Homo sapiens: one gene and its partner. The protein of the gene in region 1 purifies or fractionates together with the protein of each later gene. This does not show direct contact. Each region holds a gene or a part of one and is shown in the gene's direction. Other genes may lie near its edges.

Region 1 (6,008 bases):
GAGAAAATTTACATAAAATTCACCATTGTAACCATTTATTTATTTATTATTTTTTGAGATGGAGTCTTGCTCTGTCGCCCAGACTGGAGTGTAGTGGCAGGATCTCGACTCACTGTAGCCTCCACCTCCTGGGTTCAAGTGATTCTCCCGCCTCAGCCTCCTGAGTAGCTGGGATTACAGGAGCGCATCACCACACCTGGCTAATTTTTGTATTTTTAGTAGTGACAGGGTTTCACCATGTTGGTTGGCCAGCTGGTCTCGAATTCCTGACCTCAGTTGGTCCATCCTCCTCGGCCTCCCAAAGTGCTGGGATTATAGGTGTGAGCCACCACGCCTGGCTTGTTTTGTATTTTATTTATGTATTTGCTTTTTTAGACGGAGTCTCACTCTGTCGCCCAGGCTGGAGTGCAGTGGCGCAATCTCGGCTCACTGCAACCTCCGCCTCCCGGGTTCAAGCAATTCTCTGCCTCAGCCTCCCGAGTAGCTGGGATTACAGGTGCCTGCCACCACACCCGGCTCATTTTTCTATTTTCAGTAGAGATGGGGTTTCACCATCTTGGCCAGGCTAGTCTTGAACTCCTGACCTGGGGATCCACCCGCCTTGGCCTCCCAAAGTGCTGGGATTACAGGCATCAGCCACTGTGCCCAGCCGTTTTGTATTTTTTTAGTAGAGACGGGGTTTCCCCCATGTTGGCCAGGCTGGTCTCGAACTCCTGGACTCAAGTGATCTGCCTGCCTCGGCCGCCCAACGTGCTGGGATTGCAGGTGTGAGCCACCGCGACCGGCCGCTTTCTCTTTCTTTCGAGACAAGGTCTTGCTTTGTCACCCAGGCTAGAGTGCAGTGGTGCTATCATAGCTCACTGAGCCTAGAACTCCTGGTCTCAAGATACCTCCGCCTTATTCTCCTGAATAGCTGGGTTTACAGGCATGTGCCACCGTGCCCGGCTTTTTTTTTTTTTTTTTTTTTTTTTTGAGTCTCTTGCTCTGTCGCCCAGGCTGCAGTGCAGGTGGTGCAATCTCGGCTCACTGCAAGCTCCGCCTCCAGGGTTCACGCCATTCTCCTGCCTCAGCCCCCGGAGTAGCTGGAACTATAGCGCCCGCCACTACGCCCGGCTAATTTTTTTTGTATTTTTAGTAGAGATGGGGTTTCACCGTGTTAGCCAGGATGGTCTCGATTTCCTGACCTCGTGATCTGCCCGCCTTGGCCTCCCAAAGTGCTGGGATTACAGGCGTGAGCCACCACGCCCGGAGTTTTTTTTTTTTTTTTTTTAAGAGGGAAGTGGGGTTTCTCTATGTTGCCCAGGCTGGTCTTGAATTTCTGGCCTCAAGCGATCCTCTTGCCTCGGCCTTCCAAAGTGCTGGGATTACAGGTGTGAGCCACCACACCTGGCCAATTCAGTCTTAAACCAATTTTCTGAGGCTTCGTTTTGGCAAGGCTACTTATCTGTTTTAAAAATAAACGATGTATTTTAGTAAAAGAAAAAAAATGGAGGAAAAAACAGGGTTTTGATCTCATGGAATAATTATGAGGCTAATCTAATGAGCTTCATAAAATACTATACCCATACATAGTATGCTTGTTATTTTATTGTTTTGTCAGGGTCCAGAGAACTAGGCCACTGTGTTGCTTAGGCACCGTGTCTGCACATAGTTCATTCCGGTGTACATTCATTCATCTTTACACTAGAATGTTAGTTTCAAGAACTCAGTCACCTCGTCTACACTGTCCTTTAATCCCCAATACCTGCGACAGTTCCTGGGGCAAAAACAAATGCTTGTTGAATTAAAAAGAAAAACTGGGCCGGGCGTGGTGGCTCACGCCTGTAATCCCAGCACTTCGGGAGGCCGAGGCAGGCGGATCACCTGAGGTCAGGAGTTCGAGACCAGCCTAACATGGTGAAACCCCGTCTCTACTAAAAATACAAAAACATTAGCCGGGTGTAGTGGTGGGTGCCTGTAATCCCAGCTACTTGGGAGGCTGAGGCAGGAGAATCGCTTGAAGCCGGGAGGCGGAGGTTGCAGTGAGCCGAGATCACGCCATTGCACCCCAACCTGGGTAACAGAGCGACACTCTGTCTCAAAAAAAAAAAAAAATTCCTGTAGAAGCTCCCAAGCCCAATTAAAGCTCAAGGCTATCGTCCACGTAGTGGGTTCCAAATCGCTAAGTTCCCAGGCCAGCAGGGAGAGCGAGCCGAGCGAAGGTCGCCTGTGTCAAAGGCGGGGATTTGCACAGTATTTACATGGAAGCGGAGGAAAGGCTGCTTAGCAACCGGGCTGAGGGGACGGGCTGCACTGCGCACGCGTACATGGGCGGGGCATCTTGCGCATGCGCAGGCGACAGCTCATGGCGTTCAGGGCCTGACGGTTGCTAGGGTGACAGGGACACAACATGGCGGCGGGATCTCTAACGCTCTCCTTCGAGGGACCACCACGGAGATCCTAGTGCGGGACCCCGCCTCAGGGAAGTGGAAAGCAGGGGGACAACCTTCCTGCTTCTTTCTTTTCCGTCCAGTGTCGGCAAGGGGTTGTCACCGGCTTCCGCATCCAAGATGAAGAGTGAGTGGGGCCGGGGAAAGGGGCAGGGACTGGAGAGCGAGTGGCGGGGGAGGGAGGGACTGGGGGAGCTTGAGGAGCTTGAGGGGCCTGTGGGGCCGGGCGTCGTCGCCTTCTGCCGTGGCTCGACAGGCCCGGGAGGCTCCGCATGTGGGCCCCGAATCCCCCTCGGCTGTGAGAAGCCGGTGCCCCTGGGGGAAGCTTGAGGGGTTGGGGCTAGGTTGGGAACTTTGGGGTCTCGGAGAGCCGACTCGAGTTCCCGCTCAGGCATATTTTGGTGCAGGTGCGTGGTTCTTACATTGGAGTTTAGGGAGTTGACTGTGATTCATTTTATTTTATTTTAAATGCTGGCTTGAACCTGACACTCTTTTCCTGAACATTCGGCAGAAAACGGGGGAGCGCTTACAGCGTGGCTCCCTGCCTTTTCATGATACTGGTTTAGTGACCAATTGAGAGGAAAGCTGGGCTGTGTGCTTTATTTTATTTTTTGGGTCAAGCAGTAGTGTTTTATAGGAACCACTTTTTAATAGTAGTTTTGAAGCAACCTTTTAGTTAAAAGCTGTTACTTCAAAGTTGGGAAATGAGGTAGTCATTCTAGAAAATGTAACGGGTAAAAAATTTTCTTTAGTGGGATTTGTGGATTATTGACAATCCAAGTGCAACCAGCTAGAATGATGTTTTTAAAATTATTATTACTGTACAGATATAATTGTTTATGGTTGTGAACCAGAGGTGCAGTAAAAATTCAGACCTTTGCTGTGAAAATATTATGTTAGGAGTAGTTATAATGTTAAATTTGCATTGTATCCTAATTGTCAATGGTGTACATTGCATAACATTTAAAATAATTAATCTCATTCACCCTTTACAAGGCATTTTTATTTTTATTTTATTTTGTTGGATATTGTTTAATGTTTACCTTTTTCATTAATGCACTACAAAGCTGTAGTTAGAATCCAAGGTCTACAAAAGACTTTACACTTTTACTTACAGTGCAGACTATGATACTGCACATATTTTGTACTATATTCATTTTTTTCTTCCCATCTGTTTGTTTTGAAAATTTTCAGATGTACAGGAAAGTTGCAAGAGCAGTACATTGAATATTTATAAACCCGTCCTTCACTTAGCTGCACCATTTTGCCTTATTTTTGTGTGCTCGCTTTCGCTCTGGTGTTTTCTCTCTCCCATTTATGTATTTATTTTCACTGGACCTTTCAAGAGTTAGTTGTAGACTACTAATAATTCACCACTTCTTTCAGCAGTTATCTGCCAAGAACAAGGACATTCTCCTACATCATCACAGTACAAATAACACATTTAGAAAATTTAACAATGATACAATACTCTGATACACAGTCCATATTTCAGTTTTTCCATTTATCCCAATAACATGTGTTATAGTTGTTTATATTTTTTCTATCCAATCAAGAATCACCAATTGTATTCTGTTGTCATATCTCTTTGGTCTCTTTTAATATGGTGTCCCTGCCTTTTGTGTCTTTCATGACAATGATATTTTCATTTTTATTTGGCTGTCCTCTGTAGGCCAAATGACATTTTTAAAGAATCCAGCCCAGTGTTTTGCAGAATATCGCTCAATTTGGATTTGTCTGATTTTCGCCTCATGATTAGCTTCAGCTTAAATGTTTTTACCAGGAATATGTGAGAGGCAACGTTGTGTCTCTGTCAGTGTGGCCCTTCCAGAGTGCCTGATGTCAGTTCGTTGCAGTTTTGCTGAAGTTAGATTTGATCATTTGGTTTATTTATCTACCTTCTTTTTCTCTTAGACTCTTTTTTTTTTTGGACAGGGTCTCTCTGTGTCACCCTGGCTGGAGTGCAGTGGTGCAATCTTGGCTCACTGCAACCTCTGCCTCCCGGGTTCAAGTGATTCTCCTACCTCAGCCTCCCAAGTAGCTGAGATTACAGGTGTGCACCACCACGCCCAGCTAACTTGTATTTTTTGGTAGAGACGGGGTTTCAACATGTTGGCCAGGCTGGTCTCAAACTCCTGACGTCAAGCGATCCACCCGCCTCAGCCTCCCAAAGTGTTGGAATTACAGACGCGAGCCACTGTGCCTGGCCTTCCTCTTAGACTCTTCATACCCCACTACCTAGAGGCATCACTTTCAGTAATTTACTCTCTCTATATATATTATATATAAATATATAAATGTGTATTTCTCCCTTTTTAAAAGACTAATGTTAGCACTGCATGTGTATACCTATATAGAAATATGTACATATGCTGCCTGGGCGCAGTGGCTCACACCTGTAATGCCAACACTTTGGGAGGCCGAGGCGGGCAGATCACGAGTTCAGGAGATCAATACCATCCCAGCTAACACGGTGAAACCCCGGCTCTACTAAAAATACAAAAAATTAGCCAGGCGTGGTGGTGGGCACCTGTAGTCCCAGCTACTCGGGAGGCTGAGGCAGGAGAATGGCGTGGACCTGGGAGGCAGAGCTTGCAGTGAGCTGAGATCGGGCCACTGTACTGCAGCCTGGGCAACAAAGCAAGAGACTCCGTCTCAAAAAAAAAGAAAATAAATATGTATATATGCGTATATATATATAAAATTTACATTTGTGGGCCGGGTGCAGTGGCTCACGCCTGTAATCCCAGCACTTTGAGAGGCTGAGGTGGGTGGATCACTTGAGGTCAGGAGTTCGAGACCAGCCTGGTCAACATGGTGAAACCCCGTCTCTACTAAAAATACAAAAATTAGTCAGGCGTGGTGGCAGGTGCCTGTAATCCCAGCTACTTGGGAGGCTGAGGCAGGGGAATCGCTTGAACCTGGGAGGGGGGCGTTGCAGTGAGCTGAGATCGCACTACTGCACTCCAGCCTGGGCAACAGAGCAAAAAAAAAAAAAAAAGTATATGTGTGTATACATATAAAATTTACATTTATGGGGCGGGTGCAGTGGCTCACGCCTGTAATCCCAGCACTTCGGGACGCCGAGGTTGGCTGATCACTTGAGGTCAGGAGTTCGAGACCAGCCTGGCCAATGTGGTGAAACCCCATCTCAACCAAAAAATACAAGAAAAAAAAAATCAAAACAAAACAAAATACACAAAAAATGTACATTTATGATTTACTTCTTGTAAACTTTTGTTTTTAAAGTATATTTAGTATTGTTTGGTATGTTCTTTTAGATGGTCATTTTGGTAGTTTTCGGTTACTTGGTTTAGTGGTGACATCTTTATTCTCCCTTTCTTCCTTCTACCTTAAAATGTACTCTAAGAATTATTGTAACCTTTTATCCCCCTGGTTTACATCCTGATCATTAAATAAATGATTTAAAAATAGTTAACAATGGAGAGAATATTCCAGAACTGGAAATCACAGAGACAGAGTTATAGAAGTAGAATGATCAGGAAAAGTGAGTAATGGTGAAATTGGATCCATAGCTTGGGGTCAGAGTGGGGCTGGGAATGCTAGATTATTACAGGG
Region 2 (3,232 bases), on another chromosome or scaffold:
CTTCAGTGCCTAGAATAGTCCTAGTACATGGAGGGATCTGTAAATATTTGGTATCCTGATGAATGAATTAATGGATGGGGGGACTTCACTGTCTGTAGGAATCATGGAGCTAGCTAATAAGTAATACATGAACCAGAGTGTATGAAATATATTAGTCCCTTGGAAGCCATAGGGGTTTGATTTCAGGACCCCACATGGATACCGAAAGCCAGAGATGTTCAAGTTCCTGATATATGTGAAGTCTTTGCCTATAACCTATGTACATCCTCCCATATACTTTAAATCATGTCTAGACCAGTTATAATACCAAATGCAATGCCTACCTGTCACTTCATTCACAAGGATTCAACATAGGACTCAGTGTGTGAGAAATTCCAGTTTTGCTCTTTGGAACTGGAATTTTTTTCCCTAAATATTTTTTATGTCCTGTTGGTTGAATCCATGGATGCCAAACCCATGGATATGGAGGGCTGATTATATATTGCAGAACAGATTTTTTTTTTCTCTGTGGATGGCTGCTTATCCATTTTCAACTTTCTTAGGTTTCCTTGACATGATTGGTTTTATGTGTGTGCAGTTGACCCATGTCCTGTGGAAACTTCTAAGCATAGCATTTTTTTTTTCATGACCACACTGAGTAATATGCCTTCCCTGGGACCTACCCTGGAGCTTTCCATAGGGAGCATATTTATATCTGAGAAGAAAGTCTTTTTGAATGAGGATTTGCAGCTAGCTTTCCTTTGAGAGATTTACCCATCTGCAGCCCATTTGCCTTTTCCAAAGTCGGCCCACACTTCACTGCCTCCAGTTCCTCCTTCCTTCCCTTAGAGGGGGAAGAATGAGGATGAGAGGACACAAGTTATGTAGCTGAATGTTGACTCTGTTTCTGGTCATCTTTCTTCAAAAATGTGCGTATTTCCCTTTTCTTTACATTATGCAAATTTAATTGTCAAAAAGTTAAAGGACAGGCTTTTTGTTTATTTTTATAGATTTAGTGCTATATTTTGAACTAGTAAGCTTTATGACCTGGAAGGAATTGGGGAATTACTTACTCAAAATAGAAACATCCTGAGACCCCTTCCCATCTCCTTAAAGACCTCTTATTTATAAGTCACAGTGTATTAAATATATCCATGTACCTATTAGACAGGATTGTTCCCTTGACCATCTTTGCGGGCAGGAACTTCAGGGTTTGTTTCACTCAGCCCACCGCTGTCGATTCCTTGCAGGAGGGAGTGTGCAAGCGAGCAAGTGCAGGAACCGGAGCAAATGAATGCTGGAATTGGCTGGTCGCTCCTCTCTGGCGAGAGCAGGCTCTGTTATGCACGCCCCACAGCAGTGTCCAAGCATGTTACAACCCATGCTGTTTCAGCTCTGCCATCTGGGGATGGCCAAGTGCCAATCAGCTCAGTGGAGCATCAGGGTAGCAGCCCCTGCCCTCTTGGCACCTGGGTTCTTGTCCAGCATCCAGGAAGAACCAGGTCACATGAACTGTGTGAAAGGTGATGAACGCAGAAGACTTTATTGAGTGGTGAGTGGTTCTCAGCAGAAAAGGAGGCTGGAAAGGGGCTGGGAAGGGGATCAACATGTTCCTGAAGCCAGGCCATTTGTGGCTGGGCCCCTCTCCAAAGCAGCACCTTCTGAAGTTAGCCACATCTATCCATACTTTCCGACACTCAGTTGCTTCTCTGCTCACCGCTCAGCGACTTGTATCCTTGCCACTCAGCTGCTTGTGTTGCTCTGCCAGCTGAAATCTTTTATGGTCACAGGATAGTGGCAGGCAGGCCAAAAAAAGCAACATTGGGGCAGAAAAATGGGGTCATCTGTTTTCACTTAGGGCTGAGGTTCTAGGCTTAAGGGTGGAGTTTGGCTAGGTATACTGATGGGTACCCACTTACCTATTAATATTTTCCAAGTTTCAACCTTTGGAACTTAACTCTCCATCAGAAAAATTTACCTAATTCAGGACTTGGTAATATCCTGACAAAGTTTTGAACATTTTGTGAGCATGAACCATAATAAGAAACACCTCTTTCAGTATAACCTGGACAGTTTTCATGCATGTAGGTGTATGTGAGTGACTTTAGCTGACATTTCATGTAACGACACCTTTCCTGCTTGTCTCCACACTGTGATAATTTTCATTCTGGCTCCTTTCTATAAATGTCTATTGAAGGTTTTAACTTTATTTCAGCTCACTGATGTGTAGTCTTGAATATAAAAACAGTTAAAAAGGCCTGTTTATCTACATCATAGGCTTTCTTTTCATTCCAAGTGATTCTTCACATCATTGATTGTCTGATGAAGAGCATCCTCCTTTGTGGACCTCTGGAAGGACAGCCTTTCAGATTCCCCTCAGAACTGCAGTTGTCTGTCTCTGTACTCTTTCAGATAACCAACTTATCATCCATATCAAAACAGAAAAATAAGATTAAGTATTTTATATGTGTCATGCAAAATTCTTGTATAGGAATACTTTCGATTTGTAGATATAAACATTCTAAGGTGTTTGATGTTTAGTATCATGAAGGGTTAAACTAAAAAGTTTAATGGGACATTTTACAGAGAACTGCTCTCACTTCACTCCAAGTGCAAATTCGGCAGTTTTTCAAAACTACCTTCACATTCAATAATTTCCTAGAAAGACCCTCAGAACTCACTGGATGTATTTATTCTCACAGTTACTGATTTTTACAAGCAAAAGATGCATATTATAGTTAACCAAGGGGGAAAAACCAAATAAGACAGAGTCCAGTGAAGTACCAAATGTGGATCTCCTATTGTATTCTCACAGTAGAGTCGGGCATGTTACATACCCAAAATTAGCATGTGACTTAGACACAAGGAACCACCAATCAGGGAAACTCAACTGAGTGCTGGGATCCAAGTAATTATTGGGGCTCCATTACATAGCCATAATTGGTTGGTTGATTCCTGTGTGGTTATTTAGTCTTTTGGTCCACTGGTTCCCTGTGACCTAAAGACCTACATTAAATCACATCGTTATTTTTTCTGACATGGGGAATGCCACCTGCCATTTCCCATCCCCCAAAGCTGTGGCTAGTCACAACCCTAAATTATATTATTTCACTGTCAAGAGTTACCCAAGATTTGCCCCCAAGCAAACAGAGAGACTCTCCTCAGGCATGCCCCTTCAAGATTCTACAGATTACCTCTCAGATACTGAGGACAAAGTCCTGACCTCTTTTTAGTTAGGTTAACTCCTTTTCTT

What was found. Proteins that work in one complex are often made in the same cells at the same time.
Region 2: the proteins of MOK (region 1) and ZNF223 purify together in Homo sapiens (affinity purification with mass spectrometry, with the first as the bait; one large-scale study listed by BioGRID). This does not show direct contact.

What each region holds. Positions count from the first base shown.
Region 1 is NC_000014.9:102,301,510-102,307,517, reverse strand, and holds the start of MOK (MAPK/MAK/MRK overlapping kinase), read left to right. Parts: upstream 1-2,353; 5' UTR 2,354-2,549; coding exon 2,550-2,556; intron 2,557-6,008. UniProt on the Homo sapiens protein: Able to phosphorylate several exogenous substrates and to undergo autophosphorylation. Negatively regulates cilium length in a cAMP and mTORC1 signaling-dependent manner.
Region 2 is NC_000019.10:44,062,036-44,065,267, forward strand, and holds part of ZNF223 (zinc finger protein 223), read left to right. Parts: intron 1-1,282; exon of another isoform or gene 1,283-1,531; intron 1,532-3,232. UniProt on the Homo sapiens protein: May be involved in transcriptional regulation.